Linked DNA regions of Homo sapiens: regions 2 and 3 are each reported to be linked to region 1. Evidence: microRNA targets listed by miRTarBase, many of them from high-throughput screens and not tested one by one. Region 1 holds a microRNA gene; each other region holds the end of a gene's coding sequence.
Evidence for each region. Region 1 holds the annotated microRNA hsa-miR-519e-3p (AAGUGCCUCCUUUUAGAGUGUU, at 3,258-3,279, shown strand). A microRNA usually pairs through its seed, bases 2 to 8, with sites in the 3' UTR of a target mRNA and lowers its output. Matches are read on the target gene's strand: a 7mer-m8 pairs with bases 2 to 8, a 7mer-A1 pairs with bases 2 to 7 and ends in A, and an 8mer does both.

Region 1 (7,435 bases):
TGTTCTGCAGTCCCCAATGGGGATTTTTTTTTTCCTGTTCATTTGTCTTTTTATTTTAATCTACTTGTCCCTGACACTGAAAATTTTTCCTTCCTAACAGCTTACCATCATTTCTCAGAATAGACCTGCTTCCTCTGTGAGAAGCTTATAGTTGATTCAACCCTCAACCACTAATGCCAACAACCCTAGTGAGTTCTTTTGACTACAGCTGGACCATTTATCCTGTTTCCTGTGGGTAGCGGTTCCAATGTACCATTCCAACAGGCAAAACCTCGCCTCTGAATACAGGTTGCTTGGCAAGATCTAAAATGTTTGCTGTGCCTAATATAAACTATTGTAAAGAAAATCCATCTCAATCACAGTGACAAATGTCACATGAGACAAAACCACAGATATTTTCGCAAAAATAGGGTCCTTTAGAACCCTAGAAGGGTCTCTCTAGTAACAGGTGGGATGTTCAGCAGCTCTTGTTGTTGCCACAGTGAGCGATGCCTGTTCGTCCAGCCCTTAACACCTCTTACTCCATGGAAGTTCTGCCTGCACTGCTTTATAGAACACCTCTTGGGTTGAGGTAGAGTTGGAGGGGACCTCAGTGTCCCTTGCTGATGGGATGTGCACTGCTTAGCAAGCGCACGGAGGTGGAGTGCATGGGCTCTGAGTTTTTATTGGGTAAATGCAGCCGAAATGTAGTGTGCATGAACAGGTCAAAAAATTGCACATTTGATTTAATTTTTAAATTTTAGAGATGGGGGTCTCACTGTGTCACCCAGACTAAACTGGGCTGTGCTCCTATGCGTACCCTAGTAGCTGGGACTTCAGGTGAATATTAACCCATGCATAGGCAAGGAGAGAGGAAGGCTCTGACAGTCTGTGATCTCCCCTCACTGCAACCTCCACCCTCTGGACTGGGAACGTCAGGGCACTGCACCGATGCAGGCAGGATGAGCCGAGGGGAAAGGAGAGCCAGGCATCACTGGCTGGGGACATTTTGGGTTTGATCTGGATGGAGCAGGTGTCTCCTGGAGAGAGAGCCCCTGGGATTTTCACTCTGCTCCCTGGCTGTCTTAGTCATGGAATCTGACAACAGAGACTCCTGCCCAGGGCCACTTCATTTGGTTTCTGGACCCCAGTGGTCCTTCCTGCCTGGACTTAGGATCTTTTGGGGAAGTTTGGGATCTGGCAGGGCATCTGCATAATCCATAGAAATCCCTGAGAGTCACTTCCCTTGGCTGACATCTCCATGTTCCTACCCATTACCTTCCAAAGGAGACCCTTAACTGAATTACCAAAGGGGGCTTCCCAGAGCAGGGAAACCCGGTTAACTTTCTATTTCAGGTCAACAGTATACTTGAGATGTACTTGAACTAGAAATGATTGGTTGTTTAGGTGTGGGCATTTGTTTTTCCTAACTTAGTCTCCAAGAAAAAAAATTATTGAGGTTTTACAGCCTAGCCTGTGGTCTATCCTGAAGAATGTTCGTGTGTGTGACAATGTACATTCTTTTTTTCCCCCCAGCTCTGTCAAATCTTACTGAGGAGCTTTTACGGCCTAGCCTGTGGTCTGTCCTGGAGGGTATTTGTGTGTACAACAATGTATATTCTTAAACATTATCTTAGATTCCATTTTGGATGTTCCCATCAGGACTGTGTGTTTCTGTGCTGGAACTCAAGTGAACACTGGCTCAACATCCTTAGAAATCCAGCCCAATTCTCTTGGTTAAAGATAAGGTATGTGTGGTAGGCATTGCTTTTTCTCTTTGGGGACAAAACTCAGGAGGATTGCCCCTTGATGAACAAGGCTAACCTGCTAAGCCTTTGAAGCAAGGAACTGGAGATGGTCCTTTCAGGGGTTTATGTTCTGGATTCCATAAAACATGCAAACAGGGGCAATGAATGCACCTTTTTTATTTTTATTTTTATTTTTTTTTGAGATGGAGTCTTACTCTTGCCAGTCTGGAGTGCAGTGGCACGATCTCGGCTCACTGCAACTTCTGCCTCCTGGTTCAAGTAATTCCCCTGCCTCAGCCTCCCGAGTAGCTGGGACTACAGGTACATGCCACCACAGGCGGCAAATGGTTGTATTTTTAGTAGAGACGGAGTTTCACCATGTTGGCCAGGATGGTCGTGGTCTCTTGACCAGCCTCCCAAAGTGTTGGGATTCCAGGCGTGAGCCACCGCGCCTGGCCAATGAATGCATCTTTATTTTTGTGTTCATTTTAATCTGGTAAGGTAAATTCCAACAAAAAACCCAGAGTTTTGGAGTGAGAAGATCTCATGCAGTCATTCTCCAAAAGAAAGCACTTTCTGTTGTCTGAAAGCAGAGTGCCTTCTTTTGGAGCGTTACTGTTTGAGAAAAACCACGTTGAAGTTGATGCTGATCTTGGTAACACATTTGCAGAGCGTGCTTATCATCAGACTTGCATGATGTTGGGGTTCTGTTTTTGTTTAGTTTTTTTGCAACACAGGGTCTCTTGCCCAGGCTGGAGTGCGGTGACACTTCCAACCTAGACCTCTTGGGCTCAGTTGGTCCCTGCCCCCACCCCCTCCCCCTTTTTTTTCTCTTGAGACAGTCTCTCTCTGTGGCCCAGGCTGGAGTGCAGTGGTATGTTCTCTGCTCACTGCAACCTCTGCCTCCCGAGTAGCTGGTATTACAGGCACATGCCACCACGCCTGGCTAATTTTTGTATTTTTAGCAGAGACGGAGTTTCATCATGATGGCCAGATTAGTCTTGAACTCCTGACCTTAGGTGATCCACCTGCCTCGGCCTCGCAAAGTGCTGGGATTACAGGCATGAGCCACTGTGCCTGGCCCACAACGTATATTCTTAAATATCATCTTAGATTCCATTTTGGTTGCTCCCATCGGGACTGTGTGTCCCTGTGCTGGAACTCAAGTGAACACATGGCTCAAAATCCATTGCTGTTCTCTAGAAATCCAGCCCAATTCTCTTGGTTAAATATAAGGTATGTGTGGTAGGCTTTGCTTTTTCTCTTTGGAGACAATACTCAGGAGGGTTGCCCCTTCGTGAACAAGGCTAACCTGCTGAGCCTTTGAAGCAAGGAACTGGAGATGGTCCTTTTAGGGGTTTATGTTCTGGATTCCAGAAAACATGCAAACAGGGACAATGAATGCATCTTTATTTTTGTGTCCATTTTAACCTGGTAAGGAAAATTCCAACAAAAACCCAGAGTTTTGGAGCGAGAAGATCTCATGCAGTCATTCTCCAAAAGGGAGCACTTTCTGTTTGAAAGAAAACAAAGTGCCTCCTTTTAGAGTGTTACTGTTTGAGAAAAACCACGTTGAAGTTGATGCTGATCTTGGTAACGCATTTGCAGAGCGTGCTTATCATCAGACTTGCATGATGTTGGGGTTCTGTTTTTGTTTAGTTTTTTTGCAACACAGGGTTTCTGTTGCCCGGGCAGGAGTGCGGTGGCGCTTCCAACCTAGACCTCTTAGGCTAGTTGGTCCCCCCTACTTTTTTTGTTGTTTTTGTTCTTGAGACAGAGTCTCACTATGTGGGCCAGGCGGGCAGGCAGTGACACATTCTCTGCTCACTGCAACCTCGGCCTCCCAAGTAGCTGGTATTATAGGCACGTGCCACCACGCCTGGCTAATTTTTGTATTTTTAGCAGAGATGGAGTTTCACCACATTGGCCAGGTTAGTCTTGAACTCCTGACCTCAGGTGATCTGCCCGCCTCTGCTTTCCAAAGTGGTGGGATTACAGGCATGAGCCACCCTGCTCGGACTGCAGGGTGTTTTTTTTTTTTTTTTTAATTATTATTTGTATTTTTTTGTGCTGCCAAAGCAAGCACTTGTGTGTAGGAATTTTGTTTGTTTGTTTGTTTGTTTGTTTGAGATGGAGTCTCATTCTTGTCGCCCAGGCTGGAGTGCAGTGGCATGATCTCGGCTCACTGCAACCTACGCCTTCCGGGTTCAAGCGATTCTCCTGCCTCAGCCTCCTGAGTAGCTGGGATTTCAGGTGCATGCCGCCACCCCGGCTAATTTTTGTCCTTTTGGTAGAATCGGGGTTTTGCCATGTTGGTCCGGCTGGTCTCAAACTCCTGACCTCAACTAATCCACCTGCCTCGGCCTCCCAAACTGCTGGGATTACAGGCATGAGCCACCGCACCCGGTGAGGAGTTATTTTTAATGTGAGCAAACAGTATATTCTTTTTTTTTTTTTTCATAGACAGGGTCTCAACAATATATGATGTATATTTAATCATATAGTCTTATCATGTATATAATGTAGTCATATGTACACCAAACCCTGTTCTACACACGGAGAATACTCTTGTATCACTTTGGGTATTTATTTACTTGTTTCTTTCTGTGTTTTTCTTGTTTGTTTGTTTGTTTTGTTTTGAGACAAGGTCTAGCTTTATCACCCAGGCTGGAGTGCAGTGGTGCCATGTCGACTTACTGCAACCTCCACCTGCCACCTCAGCCTCCTGAGTACTTGTCTACAGGTGCGCACCACCACACCCAGCTAACTTTTCTATTTTTTGTGCATAAGGTTTCACCATATTACCCATGCTGGTTGAGCTCGAACTCCTGAGCTCAAGTGATCCTCCTGCCTTGCCCTCTTTAAGTGCTGGGTTTATTGGTGTGAGCCACCACGCCCCACCCATACTTGTGTATTTCTGTATTTATTGAGGAGCTTATACAGCATACCCTGTGGTCTATCCTGCAGGATGTTTGTGTGTGAGACAGTGTATATTCTTGAACATAGTAGATTCCATTTTGGATGCTCCCATCGGGACTGTGTGTCCCTGTGCTGGAACTCGAGTGAACACTTGGCTCAAAATCCATTGCTGTTCTCTAGAAATCCAGCTCAATTCTCATGGTTAAATATAAGGTATATGTGGTAGGCATTGCTTTTTCTCTTTGGGGACAGAACTCAGGAGGATTGCCCCTTGATGAACAAGGCTAACCTGCTGATTCTTTGAAGCAAAGGACTGGAGATGGTCCTTTTAGGGGTTTATGTTCTGGATTCCAGAAAACATGCAAACAGGGCCAATAAATGCATCTTTTTGTTTTGTTTTGTTTTGTTTTTGAGATGGAGTCTCGTTCTGTCACCCAGGCTGGAGTGCAGTGGCACAATCTTGGCTCACTGCAAGCTCAGCCTCCTGGGTTCACGCCATTCTCCTGCCTCAGCTTTCCAAGTAGCTGGGGCTACAGGTGCCCACCACCACGCTAGGCTAATTTTTTGTATTTTTAGTAGAGGCGGGGTTTCACCCTGTTAGCCAGGATGGTCTTGATCTCCTGACCTCGTGATCTGCCCGCCTCGGCCTCCCAAAGTGCTGGGATTACAGGCATGAGCCACTGCGCCCGGCCCCAATAAATGCATCTTTATTTTTGTGTCCATTTAAACCTGGTCAAGGAAGATTCCCACAAAAAATCCACGGTGCTGGAGCAAGAGGATCTCAGGCTGTGACCCTCTAAAGGGAAGCGCTTTCTGTGGTCAGAAAGAAAAGCAAGTGCTTCCTTTTAGAGGGTTACCGTTTGGGAAAAGCAATGTTGAAGTTGATGCTGATCTTGGTAAAATATTTGCAGAGCGTGCTTATCATCAGACTTGGATGATGGTGGGGTTTTGCTTTTGTTTTGTTGTATTCCAAGACAAGGTCCCTGTTGCCCAGGCTGGAGTGCGGTGACACTTCAACCTACATTTCTTGGGCTCCGGTCGTTTTTGTTTGTTTGTTTGTTTGTTTGACAGGGAGTCTCACTGTGTGTCTCAGCAATGCAGTGGCACTATCTTGGCTCACTGAAACCTCAGCCTCCTGAGTAGCTGGGATCACAGGTGCGTGCAACCACGCCCATCTAATTTTTGTATTTTTTGCATTTTCAGTAGAGACGGGGTTTCACCGTGTTAGCCAGGATGGTCTCGATCTTCTAACCTCGTGATCCGCCCGCCTCGGCCTCCCAAAGTGCTGGGATTATAGGCGTGAGCCACCGCGCCCGGCCGAGAAACTAATCTTTTGAGATGAACTCTGAGATGTGGATTTTAGCTTGTTTGCAGCCACCACCACTCTAGTTTTGGAAGATTTTCATCACCCCGAAGAGGCTTATACTCATTTGCAGTCAGTACCCACCCACCTCTTCCACCCAGACCGTGGCAACGACTCCCCATCTCTCTAGCTCTGGATCTGCCTCTTGTAGGCCGGTCACGTAGACCAATCTTGTATGGGTGTCCAGTTGAGGATAATGGGTTGGTCCTGGTTGTCTGCAATGTGAATCTTACCACTGAAGGGTGGTCCCTGGAGGGAAGCAGGAGGCTGGGAGAACTGGGCGGAACATCCTTTGGGAATGGAGTGGGGCGGGCAGACCCTGATGTCTGGGAAGCTCACAAGGGTGGAAGACCCCATCTTCCTCCCTGAGAACTGCAAGGTGACCCTCCTGGGGCACTGGAAGGAGTGAAGGCCTCTGGGCTGGGAACGTCAGGGCACTGCACCGATGCAGGCAGGATGAGCCGAGGGGAAAGGAGAAGCAGGCATCATTCTCTGGGGACATTTTGGGTTTGATCTGGATGGAGCAGGTGTCTTCTGGGAGAGAGAGCCCCTGGGATTTTCACTCTGCTCCCTGGCTGTCTTAGTCATGGAATCTGACAACAGAGACTCCTGCCCAGGGCCACTTCATTTGGTTTCTGGAGCCCAGTGGTCCTTCCTGCCTGGACTTGGGATCTTTTGGGGAAGTTTGGGATCTGGCTGGGCGTCTGCATAATCCATAGAAATCCCTGAGAGTCACTTCCCTTGGCTGACATCTCCATGTTCCTTACCCATTACCTTCCAAAGGAGACCCTTATCTGAATTACCAAAGGGGGCTTCCCAGAGCAGGGAAACCTGGTTAAATTTGTATTTCAGATTAACAGTATACTTGAGATGTACTTGAAGTAGAAATGATTGGCTGTGGGTGTCGGCATTTGTTTTTTCTAATTTTAAATATGGGACCATCATGAATTTGGGTGTCACTTTGTGCAGGGGACGTGGGAATCGCTGTCATTTTTTTTTTTTTTTAACATATGCTGCCAGAGAAGGCACTTAGGTGGAGAAATTACTCTTCGTGTGAGCATTCAGTATATAGAACTTCCTTTTCTGGGGGCAGTGTCTTATATATGATACACATTTTATCATATCATCTTCTATAGATAATATAATGATTAACACAAAACACTCTTCTACACACACAGAATACTCTTGTATCACTTTGGGTTTTTTTTCCTTCGTGTGTGTGTGTGTGTGTGTGTGTGTGTGTGTGTGTGTGTGTTATGAGACAAGGTCTGGCTCTGTCACCCAGGCTGCAGTGCAGTGTTGCAGTCTTGGCCCATGCCCCACCGCAGCCTCTGGAATAGCTGTCTGCAGGCCAGGCACGGTAGCTCAGGCATGTCGTCTCAGCACTCTTGGAGACCAAAGCAGGCTAATCACCTGGAGTCAGGAG
Region 2 (7,435 bases), not on the chromosome of region 1:
TTTTGGTTTAGAAAGATGAATTTGATGGCAGTATAAAGCATAATTCTTGGGGAAGTGAGACTAGAAACCATTTCAGAGACTGTTTGGTAATACAGTCAAGAAATGATTATGGTCTAAAATAAGGCAGTTGTCCTGGAGATGAAGAGAAAAGGATTTATTTGAAGGACTTTAGGGTATAATAAATAGGAAAGGGCTAAAGGCTTAGTTAAAACTAGGAAATAGGATTCTGTAAAGGGATTTGGATGCTTGCTTACCATAGAGTGGAAGAAGTTTACAGAATAGAAAGACCTGGCAAGACGGGAGAGTGCTTAAAAGAAGAGGAGTCACAAAGTCATAGGATGATGAATTAGAGAGAATCTAGCATGTATTGGGCAATTGCGATTTGCTGAATGAGTGAGAGAAAAGATGAAGAGATTTGCATTTGGGACAGAGTCCAAGCTTACAAAAATGTAAATATGATAGAATTGGCTTGCATTAAGTTTTCAGAAAGAACTATAGCATAAAGCTGTTGTAAATCTACTTGGACTCCTCTGAACAACATTGTGAAAATTTGGTTTGTTTATATAGAAATCCCTATCCACATAGAGAAGGGAGAGTTAGTTTTCTTTATCTGCTGTCTGGTATGATAATCATTAGCCACACGTGGCTATTGAGCACTTGCAACATGTTGAAATGGTAATATTTTGGATATATTGTGTTTAAATATATTAAAATTAATTTCACTTGTTTCTTTTTACTTTTTAATATAGCTACTAGAAAATTTCTAATTAAATATCGGCTAGTGCCGATGTTGGCTAGTGCTACCCATACTCTTGCCTTATGGTAAAAAGACACACCTTTTTTTAAGAGTTTGAGCTGATTACACATTAAAGTCCTAGCCAAGAAATGAGGTTTACTGTAAAACCAACTCAAACTACTTTTGTTAATAAACAGTTTCACCATTGTGATACCATAGTTAAATGTTAATTCTGAGTTACACTAATGAAATGTTTGCACTGTGTCTGCTTCTGAGCTTAGAGAGCTTCTTAGCTAACTACAAGCCTAGAGAACTTTTCCTTGCTATATTCTATTATACTGCTTATAATTTTAATCTGATTTTAAGGAACCATGTAGTTATCTTTTCTTATGTTCTTTGTCTTCAGATTCCTTGGAATTTTGATTTTTCTTTCTGTACCTCCATAGACTGTGACCCATAAGTTAAAAGACAGTAGGGAAGTAGACATTTTTCCCCCTTCCTTTGCAGCTGCATTCAAATATACCAGGGCTAATAACAGGACTGAAAGGGACCGGATAGAACTTCTCCAAGATGCAGAACCTTTGGATTTTAATGCAGAAACATTCACTGATGATCCTCTTGAATCTGAATCAGGAAGGTAAGTTCTGGCTGTGACATTTTAGCTCTAGCATTCCTCTACACTTTTAATAACACATTGACTTGACAAGATTGAAAATAAGTAAGTAAAGGTGAAAGTAAACAAGTGATAAGTAAAGGAAAATGTTCATTTTCACTAACAATAAAAAATATATTAAGTAACTTTTGATACCTTTTTAGACTTTCTAATGCTTTTATATCATCCAGTAATGGTAACTAAAATTGTTATCTTCATACAATACTAGTGGTATTATAAATAAGAAAGAATAATTGAAATATATAGCAAAGGATCACAACAATATTTATATGCCTATTTCTGATTGTCCCATTTGTGAAATTTATTATATTTAGTAACTGCTGCATAGCAGTGTCTAGATGCCAGACACTATTCTAAGTCCTTTAGCAAAAATATTGTAATTGTATGGTTGCAAATTCAGCTGGATTTAAATCCAGAGAGGCTCAGTAAAGTGCCCAGAGTCACACAACTTGTAAATGGCAAGTCAGGCATTCAAAGTCCAGTATTCTGGCTACAGAGTCTGTACTTTTAGCCATTATGCTATAAGCACATAATTAAATAAAAGCAAAATATCATGTGCACGAAAATGTTTACTATAGTATTGCCTATATGCAGTAAAAACCTAGGTTATATTTATTTGCAACAATTGAGAGTGGTTATTGAATTGATTAATCTCCCAGATGTGTCTTACATCCCCTGCCCCCTTCTTTTTACATCTCTCACTCTGTCATGCATATATTCTAGGGTCTAAAACCGTTGCTGGTTGATTTATAATTAAGTCCTTTTGGATAATATACTTGGAGGGTAAGTTTCTGCTTTCAGCTACTGACTAGATTTTACAGTACTTACAAATTATATGGCCACTCCCTTTTAATGTATTCTTGTTTTCCTCTCTTCCTTTATTATTTTTGATGCCTCAGATCATTTCTTTATGTTCCCTTTTTAGGTATCAGCCTGGTGGACGATATCTCTCGATGTCTCGCAGTGACATATTTAATGATGTTTAAAGTCTGAAAAAGTTTGTGGGACCACTAACCAAGGTCAACACATCAGTTCAGTCTTGATGAACATCTGTGTACCCTAGAATTTCCTCTATACACAGTGAAAAGTGTCAAGATAACAAAAAAGGCACTGAGAATTAATTATATCTTAGGAATAATAGTTTAATGTGCATTGAATAGAGTATCACCTTTTTCAACAAGATTTATTACATATCATTTCCTAAGCATCTGCCTTAGAAATACAGTTACAGTGGAAGGACTTTAAGAAAGATCAACATATGTTAAGAACATGCAGTTCAGTTTGTTTCAGATTAATTTTTTTTCAAGAGAGTTATTTTAAAGATTCAAGGAAGCCATAAGTCATACTAAATAATATTATATACAGTTTTGTTATTGTGACTTACATTTTTGTTACTTCTAAAAAGTATATTCAACCTGTATTTCCCAAAGAAATGTAAGTGAATGGAGACCTCAAATAATAACTGTATTCATAAAACTCGTGTCTTAAAACAAGGCTTACTTACTAGACATAACTGAATGTAAAAAGTGCTTTTTCAAATCTGTTTGCAAACTCGTGGGGGATTTTTGCATGTATAAGATTAAGATTATACTTCAAGTGATGCGTGTCTGTGTATTTAGCATGTGTACTATAATCAGGTGATATAGTATTCCTTCAGTCTTTGTAGTAACTGGATTTTTTTATGCTTCTGGTATTGCTTTATAAAAGATTTTCATTTCAGAAAGCTATGTTCACATTTATCATTTAACATATTGATTTAAATGTTGATTATGATATTCAAGGATAAATCCTAGGCATTAATGAAAAATAGTTTTTTTTTAAGTAGTCAAAGAGTCCAACAAAATCCTTCAGTATTTAAAGGTACCTGCTTATACTTTTTGAGAAAAAAACTGGTTATTCAAAGGTAAAAAGTGAATCCATTTACTGTTATTACTGATACTTAAATCGTGGTTTATAGAAAACAAAACTATATTAGAATGGAAATGTGTAATAACTTGTTGGTTAAACATTCTTACTAAATAGACTGTTTTTAACCTTTGTGTTTAAGATAAATTTATGTATTATATTTTAAAGCACTAGTGTTTTATTGAAAAGTGAACATGTTTGATTGCAGCATGCTTGCAGAGAGTTTTCTTATGTCCCTAGAATATTTGCAACTCTTACTGAATCCATGCTACATTTGGTGACCATACTTCAGCTTGCCTAATACAGTCTCAGTGTAACACCTAGTATCCTGTTTATTACTAGTGATTACTTTCACCCTCAAGTATCCCACCCAGTTTGAAGATGAATTATATGGTTCCCCTAACTTGAAGTTAATCTTTCCCCAAGACATAAATTTAAAATTTTTATTTTTATTTTTAATAAATATTATCATGTAAGTTTTTTTTTAAAACACAGCTCTATGCAGATATTGAAAGGAATAGAGCATCATCCTCATTATCTGAAAATTTTGATCTTTGAGTTTTTATGATCTTTGCAATTAGATCCCTTTTAAAATAATTATCAGTGGATAGACTTACTCTGAATTGAAGGTCATATAGACTACACTTAAGAACACACACATACAGTCTTTTCATGTGAAGTGTGGCCAGAAAGCAATAAGCCAGGAGCAGAGATAATTTGATCCTCTTTGTAATTTAATGATTGACTAATTGAATACCTTTGGCAAATCATGTAGCTCTTCAGTGCCTCAAGTGCTTCATTCTGCACTTTCATTTGCAGAATGAAGATGATACTTGCTATTTACCTGCTGATCTACCTTACAAAGCCATTGTGAGGAAGTTGAATTGGTGTTTATGTACTGGAGTTTATAACTGTGCTATTTTTCCTAGTGATACTTGAAGGTATTGGATGGGGAAATGATCATCCCAGAAATGGGTCCAGTTTCTTATTATTACAGAAAAGTTTACAAGTACTTAAAGCAAAAACGCTTTTGGACTAATTCATCAAAAGTCCTGTGAAAGTAGTGTTGTTTTATTTAGTCTTTGGGTTTACTTTGGAATAATTTCTTAAGTATAATGTTTCTCATCAGGTTTTGTCATGAAATTAAGATGCTGTTGTTGAAACAGAAGCAGAAAAGGAAAAGAAATTAGCCAATTACTTTTATAACTAACTTTTATAATGCCCTAAGATAAATTGGTAGGAACGTGTAAGGTAATGTTACCACTTTCCTTTAGTATTAAATTTTTTATGGTTATAATAATTGAAGTGTATACGTGCATACACTTCACAACCGGTATAGATTCCTTTATGACTTTCAAGTTATATTTAAAATATTTGGTTGTTTCAGTGATTCAGAATATTCAACTTTAAGCAGAATTTGTCTTACAGAATGTTATATACAATCATATAAAAATGTTATTTTGTTGGATAAATTTGAGTTCAGAAGGCAATGACTTGACCCTGGAAGACTCAGTTTATTGCTGGGGAACCAAGTTAATATTTGTCAAGCCACCCTGTGTAAAAAACTGTAATGGGTAGAAGTTTTCTCTTTTGAGAAGCTTATTGAAATATAATGACATCTACTGCAAAATAGGACTACTAAATACATATACTTTACATGCAAAGTACATTTCTTAAAGAATTATTTCTGGTAATTTTTGATGACTTTATTACTTGATAATAAGTATTAGTTTAAAATTTTCCAAATTATTCTTTAAATAGTTGTTAGGTAAGAATATTCAGTAAGCCAGTAATTCAGAATAACTATTGTAGAAAATAATAATAATCTATTAATTTAATGAATCACCTCTAAATTACTAATTAACTTCTTTTACAACATAAATAACTTGTTATCAATAGAGCATTTTTGTAAAAAACAAAAGAAAGAATAAGTTTAATTATTAAAATTTGCTCTCTTACCAAATGAATACAAGGGCTTTTGAATAATCTCATTGCATAAGAGGCCCTCATTTCACAGAAATGGTAAGAACTAAATCAAAAGATTCAAGGGTTTTCCCTTTATAAAGAATAGATCAGAAAATTTGACAATCCAGACATTCAAAAAAACATTCTGCCAGTTGATTTTTTTGGACTACTATTTGATTAGATGATCAGTTCTGAAATTTAAGCTGCATGTATGCCCAAATTAAATTAGCATAGGAAAGTCAATGTGTGTGGTTTTTTAAAAGTATATTTTAGCATATTAATGGAGCAATTTAATTTACATTCAGTTACAAACCTCATTCTTATTAATAGGTTTAGGGAATGTTCTTGCTGGTGTGCTGATTACCATATTAGAGAAAAAATAAACTCTCCATATTATAATTCACCTGTTTAGTAAGGTGAGTTTCTTACTTGTGATTTGAGTGGATTATGCCTAAAAATTACAAGTATATTTGCACTAAGCGACAAAATATGTCCCTGAAAAATCTTAGCGTACTTGAATCATCAAATGTAATGGATTGTATTGAATTCTAAATGTTAAGAAGTAAGTGGATTTAGGGTTTTGTCTTTCTTTTCTTATGTCCTCTCTCATTCCTTTATACCTTTCTTCCTTTCTGAGGCCTATGTTTATAGCATGACTTTTAATGTGCTGAAAGATTTTCCTTCTGTTTTGTGTACAGAGTTGTTTTTGATGAGTGGTACGCTCAGAAGGAACTAGTTCTGACTACAAATCCCACTACTTGAAATAGCAATATTGTACCTAAAGTAGTCAAACAGATTTTGCTAGACAACTAAGCAACATCTGAATACAAATGTAAAGTATGCTGGCTCAGTGTATCTTTTAGGTCACTAAAGAGGACACATCAGTAAATAAATTGTTTTCAGTGTAATATTTTTACATAAAAATAGATTTCCCCCCCAAAATTTAAGATTTATTTAGATTCTTGAGACATCTTTTTATGAAAAGGAATTAATAACATACATCATCAAAACTTTTCTTAGGAGCGTTGAAACAATATAAGAAGGTTACAGAAGGCCTTCTAAAATATGAATTCCCATCTGTATGAGGTACTTCTTTCCAACTCAGTGACTTTTTGCCCAGAGACTTGGAAGACTGGGCAATGTTTTCTTTCCCCTTTCCCAACTCCTGGAGACAAGGCCCTAGGAGCAATTTCCTCCAGTAGGGCAGGCCGTAGTCCTGCTCTGTCTTACTTCCCACTGCAGCAGGAACATGTCCTCGCCTCTGATTCCTTCTGTACCAAGCCATTGGTCCATTGAGGTCAATTGAGGACTCACTGTAAATTTTAAATCTGTTAATAAAGCAAGGATATTGGCATGTTCCTCTTCTCATCAATATCCTAAAAGACATTTATTTTTTACACACTCCTTGGGAAAAATTAACTTTTTTTCACTGAAAATATTTCCTTTTTTGGTTATCTTGATCTCAGATTATTTTGTGAAAGAATTTTACTGTACTTAGTTCAAAAGAGTAGAAAGAATGATTTACTATTGCAGACATATGTAGGGTAAAATCATAATTTATTTAAACTGACTGTACAACACCATTTAGAGTTGATATTGACATAAATGTTATTAGCCTACTAATTTGGAACTGCATTTCTCAACAATGCTGGCAAGCATCTTCCGTACTTAGCATACCAAGTTGTAGGGGAGAGACTGTGTATATATTTTTTAAAAGCAATCCAATGGATTTGTTTTTGTTCATATTTTGAAAACAACTCGAAGGATTTTTCTTATTTTAGAAGGTAGAAAATATGTGGACCTGTGTTTTAAATTAATATGTATTTATAAATTATAACATTGAATGATACAACAGAGCTCTAATATTGATGTTCTCACTTTCTGATATTTAATTTTTATAAATGTTTTTGTAAGTAACTAATTGTAGTATTGCTTTTAAATAGTTTTAAAATCTATCTCAAATAAGTTCTGCCCAGACCTATTTCCTTAGGACAGTATTCTAAAGTTCAGTAGTCCAGTGTGAGCTTGAAATACTCCTAGATCCCGTCAGTGATTTTTATATATACCAATACACAAGCAAATTATTAATATACCAAAAACCTAATTTCTGCATTGCATTAATAAAATACTTGTTATTTTGCCTTTATCCAATTCAG
Region 3 (7,435 bases), not on the chromosome of region 1:
ATCCAGATCAAGACCCTTGCTGCAAGGTCACACAGGTGAGTAAATGGTAGTGCCAGGATTTGAACCCTGATCTGACTCCAGACTTCCCCTTCCACTGGAATCACTTTGTTAGTATGATTATTATCAGAGGCCATCTCATAACCAGTGTATTAAATCACTTAATTCTACACCTTGCTGCAGAATGTAAGTCTTCCCCTTGGACTCCAGGCAAGGGTTCAGGGGCTGAGTTGAAGGGCTTGCTGATGCTTCATTTGAGACAGGGCTGGGAAGCCACCTGCTTTTATAAAGATTTTTTTGGAACACAGTCATGTCCACTGGTGTATGTATTGTGTATGGCTGCTTTTGCATGTGCCAAAAACTTTACCTGCATCATCACAGTCAATCCTGATCACAGTGCTAAAAAGTAGGCAGCAGCATCAAACTCAAAGAGGTTTGAGTTGAGATAGAGACCATATGGCTCAAAAAGTCAAGAAAACTATCTGGCTCTTTACAGAAAAAGTCTGTTGGCGGCTGATTTGAAACATTCAAGGAAGTGTCCTGGATGCGGCTTGGGCCTTTGGCTGAAGTCCAAGACAGCGGCAAGGGGAGTCCCTTGCTGGGCTCCTTCTCTGAGCACTGGCCACTGCATAGGAAAAGCTGGATTTTCAAAGGAGTCCTAGAGAAGAAGCCTTCCTTTCAAGAGTTACCAAGAAATGCTGGCTGAGTCAGCGGCCCTTCTCAAGCCAGGAGAGGAAGATACTGAGTAAATCTCTGCCATCTCCTTTGGCAGTTAGCTGGCACAGGCACACTCTGGTCAGAAAGAAACTTTGGATTGAGAAATTTCAGTTGAGTAACCTTTAGGCTTGGAGAATCGAATTCTATAAGGACTTCAGAATGGCTGCTCAGGCCAGGCCTCATGGTTCCCTCAATACGGAGGAGCCCAGCCCCTACAGGGGGTACCAAGCCAGCTAGGCCTACAGAAGAGTCTGAAATGTTAGATTTCTAAGCAGTTATGGCTCATTTTACACCACACCTGGGGTCCTGAAAAGCTGTGTGTGGTCTGAGTCTGTTTGCCTCCCTAATCTCTGTCATTTCAGAGGCTGCCTAATTCCGGATGGATTTGAAAGAGTGTTGGTTTTCAGATTCTCTGCCCCCACTCGTCAACCTCTCAGTTCAGGACCTCCGGTCCAGAAACAATCAGTTAAGTGAACTCCTATTTCTTTTCCTAAGCTCTGCATTTTGAAAAGCAATGCCCTACTCTGCTTCTGTTGTATTTATTTGGTCTAGATATCTCCAAAGGGTAGTAGCAACGCATATCATATGTTCAGCCTTCTTTTGGTTTGAGGTCTAATTATCTTTACAGAAGCCACCAACTTTCTTTTCCTTATCCCCTGCCCCAAGGAGGTCACACTTGGATCCACCCAATAGTATCCAGTTGACTACGTAGGTTCCATAGACCCTGGTGGCTGCTCCCCCTTCCTTGTCCCCGCCGTCTCTGCCCATCATCCTTTCACCAACTTAACCAAATGCTATTGTGCCTTCTAGGGCCTGTTTTTATCACTCAGCCTCTATTAGCTTTCCCTGATCCCACCAGTCCACACTGTGCCCTCTTGTACTATGAGTTTGTATTGTACTTACTAAGAATAACAAACATAGCTGGGCATGGTGGCTCATGCTTGTAATCCCAGCACTTTGGGAAGCCAAGGCAGGCGGATTACTTCGGGTCAGGAGCTCAAGACTAGCCTGGCTAACCTGGTGAAACCCTGTCTCTACTAAAAATAATAATAATAATAAAAATAAATAAATAAATAAAAATACAAAAAATTACCCAGGCATGGTGATGGGTGCATGTAATCCCAGCTTCTTGGGAGGGTGAGGCAGGAGAAACATTTGAACCCAGGAGGTGGAGGTTGCAGTGAGCCGAGATTGCGCCACTACCTTCCCTCCAGCCTGGGAGACAGAGCAAGACTGTGTCTCGGAAAAAAAAAAAAAAAAAGAATATCAAATTGTACCTAATTCTTCTTTCTAGTTAGGGGACCTTCTGTAGTACTGTAGAAAGAGTTTGCATTCTGGAATTTGAAGACCAGATTCTAGATTCACTTATCTAATTCACTGTACCCTTATGGGTCAGTATTAAGTTGTCCTGCCCCATGCCCCACTCCCTTCTCCTTGCTTTCACGTGAATTTAGAACTTTGGGGATGATTAGGCAGGTAACAGACTAATCAGCATAAAGCCAGTCCACCTGAAACCTCTGCTTAAAACCAGTTCCACCTGTTTGCCTAAAAGTCAAACTAGTAATTTTAAAATAAGGCATTTTGCACCAGTTTTCCTAAGAGGCACTTCCAATGTAACATCACTTTTTTTTTTTTTTTTTTTGAGATGGAGTCTGGCTCTGTCACCCAGGCTGGAGTACAGTGGTGTGATCTCGGCTCACTGCAACCTTCACATCCTGTGTTCAAGCAATTCTCCTGCCTCAACCTCCCGAGTAGCTGGGATTACAGGCACCTGCCACCATACCCAGCTAATTTTTGTATTTTCAGTAGAGACGGAGTTTCACCATGTTGGCCATGCTGGTCTCAAACTCCTGACCTCAAGTGATCTGCCTGCCTCGGCCTCCCAAAGTGCTGGGATTACAGGTGTGAGCCACCGCTCCCAGCCGTAACATTGCATTTTTAAATCACTATCACAACTTGCAGCATTTTGTCAATAATGAGATTGTTTTGTATGCTTGTGGGTGACTTTTTCTATTTTTCTCTCCTATTGATCATTTTTATGACTTTTTAGGGAGTTTGTTTGAAGACCCTTTCTTTAAAATTGTATATTTCTAGCACTAAATACTTGTCAAATCTATAGGATTTCCCACGAGATTTATCAAATGAACCCATTTTGATCCCTCCTCTCTGCTTCTCACTGAGTTTTGCTCTGTACTGTGTATTCCTGTGTGCACCTAATGGGTTTATTAACCAAATTAGCATGTACCCAATGTTCCCTTCTGTTCTGCAAGATATTGGCATTTTGACAACAAACGTGAAGTGATGAGACAGATGGGGCAGAATTATATTGAACTCTTTGCATTTTATTTTTCAGGCTATCTCATTCATCAAGCAACTCTACTTTGTGAAACATAAAATGATACAAACAAAGTCATTATCAAATGTATTTATTGCTGAAAACATAACATTTTTCAAGAAAGGCAAACTGGCTAAAAAGTCCTGAAAGTGTTCAAAAGTAGATAAAATAGCAGAAGACACCCACCAAGGATACAAAACAATTTTTAGTAGCGATCCTGCATTTAATCAGTATGTTCTTAAATAAACTGCTTTAAAAAAATTCTTCAAATGACACTGCCAAAAAAATTAGGACACCCAAACAGATGCCAGAAAACCTGTAAGTGGGCTGGATTTTATGTGACCTGGTCATTAAGCATAGGGATTCATTTTGTGAGCTCATGGCAAATCAGTTTGAGGCCAGTTGACCTAGAACCGATTTGGGATGCAGGCACTTACCTCCCTGCACGTGCAATATGTGGGCATGGGGACACCCATGACCCCCAGGGGAAAGGAATGCCCCTCCTGAACATGACCTCCAAGAGTAAGGGCGAACTGTCAGCTTTTAACTGTTTATTATAAAGACATATTTACACAGAACAATCTTTACAAACATTGAACACAGGGGAAGGGAACAATTTCTTAATGAACAGGGCCTTAATATCTTTGTATAAATTAGTATAAGAATCATAAACAACCACTTTAAATAAGGCAGCCCCCCTAGCCCACCCACTACCCTCTTCTGTTCCCTATCTCCCAGCTTTCTTAGCCATCCCCCACTTTCTCCCCTTCCCCACGGGGCTGGGCTTGGCTGCAGGTCATGGCAGGCCGATGAGGCAGGAGACACAGAAAGGAAGGGGGAAAGAAGGCCCAATCCCTGATGGGGGCGTCAGTGGCAGAAGAGACTTTCTGGGCACCGACCAGTCCCCACTCCAAGCATGAGCCTTTAAGCAGCAGCAGCAGCAGCAGCAGCGTTAGCAGCAGCATAGGTAAAGGGGCTTGGGGGAGGTGGATAGGCAAACATTGGGGCTATTGTGGGACTTGGGGGGCCCTGACTCCCCCGTCCCCACACACACAAAGTTGGGCATCAGGCTCTTGTCTTCTCTTTCTCCCTCCTGGGAACCCTGCTCAAGCAAAAGGGGAGAAAGCCCCCTCCAAGGAATGGCTGGTGATGGCCCCTCACGGAAGCTAGGGCCTCCCGGGGAGAGGGTGCTATTCCTGCTGCACTTCCTCCCATCTTTCTTTCCTTCCTTCTGTTCCTTTGCTTTCTTTTCTTCCCTCCTTCCTTCTGCCCTTCCCTTCCTTCTTCTCCCCTCTCCGCCTCCCCCAAAGGAAAAGCCCTGGAAGGAAGGTCCGGTCAACACGAAGGGAAGGCCATGGAGTCCAGTGATTGAAGGCTACCTCGGACTCCTGAAAACCACCCTGGGGTTGAGCGGTAGTCTCAGTGCCTGAGCCGCCCCTATTAGAGTACCCTGGGTCTGGGAATGCTGCCAGTTATGGGGGCAGCTGGCCAGTTATGGAACCTTCCAGCCCAGCTGGGGGAATGGTGCAGCAGGGGTAGGTCAGGGAGGTGGGAGCAGCTCCAGCCCCACAACAGGACAGTTCACAGCCAGCTTGCCTCTCCCTTCCCTTCCCCTCCCAGCCACCCCCAGCCCCAGCCTCGGGAAAAGGCACTTCATTTGCTTTGAAAAGACATCATCAAGAGGGAAGAGGGCGTCATAAAGTAGGAGATGGGAGACCTGGTCCCCATCCCGGCTCTGCAATGACTCTGAGCAGGTCACTCCCCTCTCCAGGCTTCTGTTTTGCAGGCGTTTGCCTAAGAAGGCTAAGTGACCTTCAAGGGTCCTGTCAGCTCTAACATTCTGTGATTCTTGGCAAAAACAACCTCTTGCTTGGCTTTTACTCCTGGGAGGGTATATAGCCATGTCAGGCCCAGCACCCTCCCCTCCTGACCTGGAGCTTGGGCTAGCTGGGGATGGGGTGTGGGGGCAGGAAGAAGGGAGTATTGGGAGGCACACTAAGGCAAGAGAAGTGACAAAGGACTTCACGGGCCCCTCTCTACCTCTCCCTTAACTGAGCAAACGCTGATGCTCCACCCACTTCACCAGAGCTCCTGAAAACCACCCTGGCACTTCCATGCCCCCAATGTGCCCTGTCTGGATCCCCGCAGCCAGCACCTCTTAACTAGAGTCTCTCCTTGCTTTTCTCTGCATTCTTCCCTGGAGGCCAGGTGAGGGGTCCAACTGACAGGAAAACAAGGGATCTGCTGGAGCCCACAGAAGGGAGCACTTCCACCCCGCGCTCAGGGCAGACATGAGGAAGGAAGGCCCAAATGAAGGTTTGGGGCGTTAGATGAGACAGGCAGGGACTAGGGCGGAGGGGACCTGGAGAAGAAGGGAGGCTTTCTGGGGCTAGGTCTCCAAAGTCAGTCCAGGGAGGGGCCAGGAAGATGGACTGGACGGATTCTTGTGAGAGAACGGGAATCATCCAAACTACAGCCAGGAGCACGCCACTGGGGGAAGCAGGCAGGTGAGAAGAGCTGGGCCCACTGGTGGCTACAGCAGGTGCGAGGTGAGAGCTGAATGGACGTGAGGCCTCCAGAGAAGCAGACCAATCTATGGAGGAGACATAACCGCCGGGGGTGGGCACTTGGGGGCCCCTTCAGTCCTAAGGAGACAAAAATGACAAGAGAGAAGTCATGGACATATCCTAGGCCAAAGGAACTCCCCAGGAAAGGAGAGGAGAGAGGAGACCGCCTTCTCTTTCCCCCAAACTCCACTCAGCCCAAACCTCAATCCCAAGGCCCCTGAGTTGGTGCCTGCCTGTCCCCACTGCAGTGGGACAGCCAGCAGACCAGGGAAGGGGCAGGCTTCAGCTCTCCTCTCTCTGCTGCCACCTTGGTTCTTCCCTCCTTCTCACAGCTCCGGGCAACCACAGCCACAACTGTCCTCTTGTTCTCTGCCTGAGAGCCCCTAGAGCTCTCTGCCTCCTTCCCCAACTCTGGCGACAATCTACACTGGACATCTGTAGGTTTGCCCTGGGCACCCCTCCCCAGCCATTAAGGTCCACCAGGATGTCTAGAAATCTCTAAGCAGGCCAGCCTCCCCAACCCCAGGCAGCAGGGTGGAAGGGAGACTGGCCCCAAGTATCAAGCCCCTCTCTAGGCCTCAGACGAGGAGATCGTCTGTAAAATAAAGGGGCTAGACAGCTGCCCCATAAGCTCTCTTGCCAGCTCTAAGCCTCTGTGAGTGTGGCGCCAGGACTGTTTGATGGATGTGTCTGGCCAGTGATGAGCGGCAGGATCACCCGGCTTCTAGGCTGTCCTTCTCCCTCCGCTTTAGCACTGTCCACTGAACAGAGGCTCAAGTACCTGCTTCAGAAAGGCATGGGTCCCTTATGGGAGAGGCGGGGCCGCTGGCGGCGGAATTTCCTCCGACCTCCCTGCCAGGGCCCTGGCCCATTCCTTGACCCTCTGGGCTGCACCAGGTGGCGGACATTGCCGTCTTCCAGCCCATTCCCATCGGGAAGCGGCATCAGGGACCCTGCAGGAAGGAGAAAGCCTGTTAGTGAGGAAGGTTGTTGGAAACGGGCAGGGGCTGCAGACCACAGGCCCGCGGGAGGGGTGGTCTGTCCATGTGGTGGCACTTCTCATAGATTTTCTTTGTTTCTTTTTTTCATATTGAGGGAAAATTTGCCATTTCTGCACTGTCCTGGGACAAACGGAACCTACTACTCACATCTTGCCATTGATGTAGCTGACTTTCTGTCCTTTTGACAGTTATATCATGTTTCTGACAGGCACAAGTGGGTTCTTTCTTTGGAACGTCATTGGGGGGTGTGCACTTTGGGTTGTCACGCCTGTACTTGGCTGGGGGGCAGGAGGCAGTAATCACCACGGCACCCCTGCAACTGGTACACTTCAAACATTTCAGACATATGACATTACAATGACCCTCCCACCGCCATGGACCCATCACCCAGATTCAACAGTTATCCAGATGGAGTCACATATGCTTTAGTTATCCCTTTTCTATTTTCCTTGACTGCAGTATTTTAAAGCAAATCCCGAACATCACGTCATTGTACTCCTACATCCTTTGATATGCAGGATGACCCACTTGTGAGTACTAGGGAGCTCATATCTCGCCCCTGGGTGTCTCATCGGTGGTTAGGCATCTCTAGGGCGCCAAGTCCTCCCAGTGGATGGGGCTGGGCCAGGCGGGTTAAGGGGGAGAGGTCTCTGACTCAGCCTGCCTCATGCTGTGACCAGATTTAGAGACCTGAGACCAGATTTAGAGACCAATAAATATTGCATGAATATTTGAGAATGAATAAATGAAACAATGGTCACCTTCAGCAGCATGTCTGTGCACCAGGAGGGGGGTGGGCTGTTGCAGTTGGTACCTCC

Region 2: the mRNA of LMBRD2 is a reported target of hsa-miR-519e-3p. Seed matches in the 3' UTR shown: 7mer-m8 at 2,515-2,521.
Region 3: miRTarBase lists APLN as a target of hsa-miR-519e-3p. Seed matches in the 3' UTR shown: 7mer-m8 at 4,471-4,477.

What each region holds. Positions count from the first base shown.
Region 1 is chr19:53,676,734-53,684,168 of GRCh38, forward strand. It overlaps MIR519E (microRNA 519e), which reads left to right and starts at 3,207; the gene lies at 3,207-3,290. It overlaps MIR515-1 (microRNA 515-1), which reads left to right and starts at 2,270; the gene lies at 2,270-2,352. It overlaps MIR520F (microRNA 520f), which reads left to right and starts at 5,426; the gene lies at 5,426-5,512. All of the region lies in intron 2 of LOC107985342 (a long non-coding RNA gene), which reads left to right. RefSeq lists an enhancer at 962-1,462.
Region 2 is chr5:36,099,006-36,106,440 of GRCh38, reverse strand. LMBRD2 (LMBR1 domain containing 2) reads left to right here. Exons shown (of 18, transcript NM_001007527.2): 17 at 1,244-1,373; 18 at 2,335-7,435. The coding sequence ends at 2,395. Among named protein-coding and RNA genes, the nearest start is that of UGT3A2, 36 kb to the right of the region's middle.
Region 3 is chrX:129,642,224-129,649,658 of GRCh38, forward strand. APLN (apelin) reads right to left here. Exons shown (of 3, transcript NM_017413.5): 2 at 6,398-6,569; 3 at 3,036-5,694. The coding sequence ends at 6,403. Among named protein-coding and RNA genes, the nearest start is that of APLN, 9.0 kb to the right of the region's middle. RefSeq lists an enhancer at 7,229-7,435.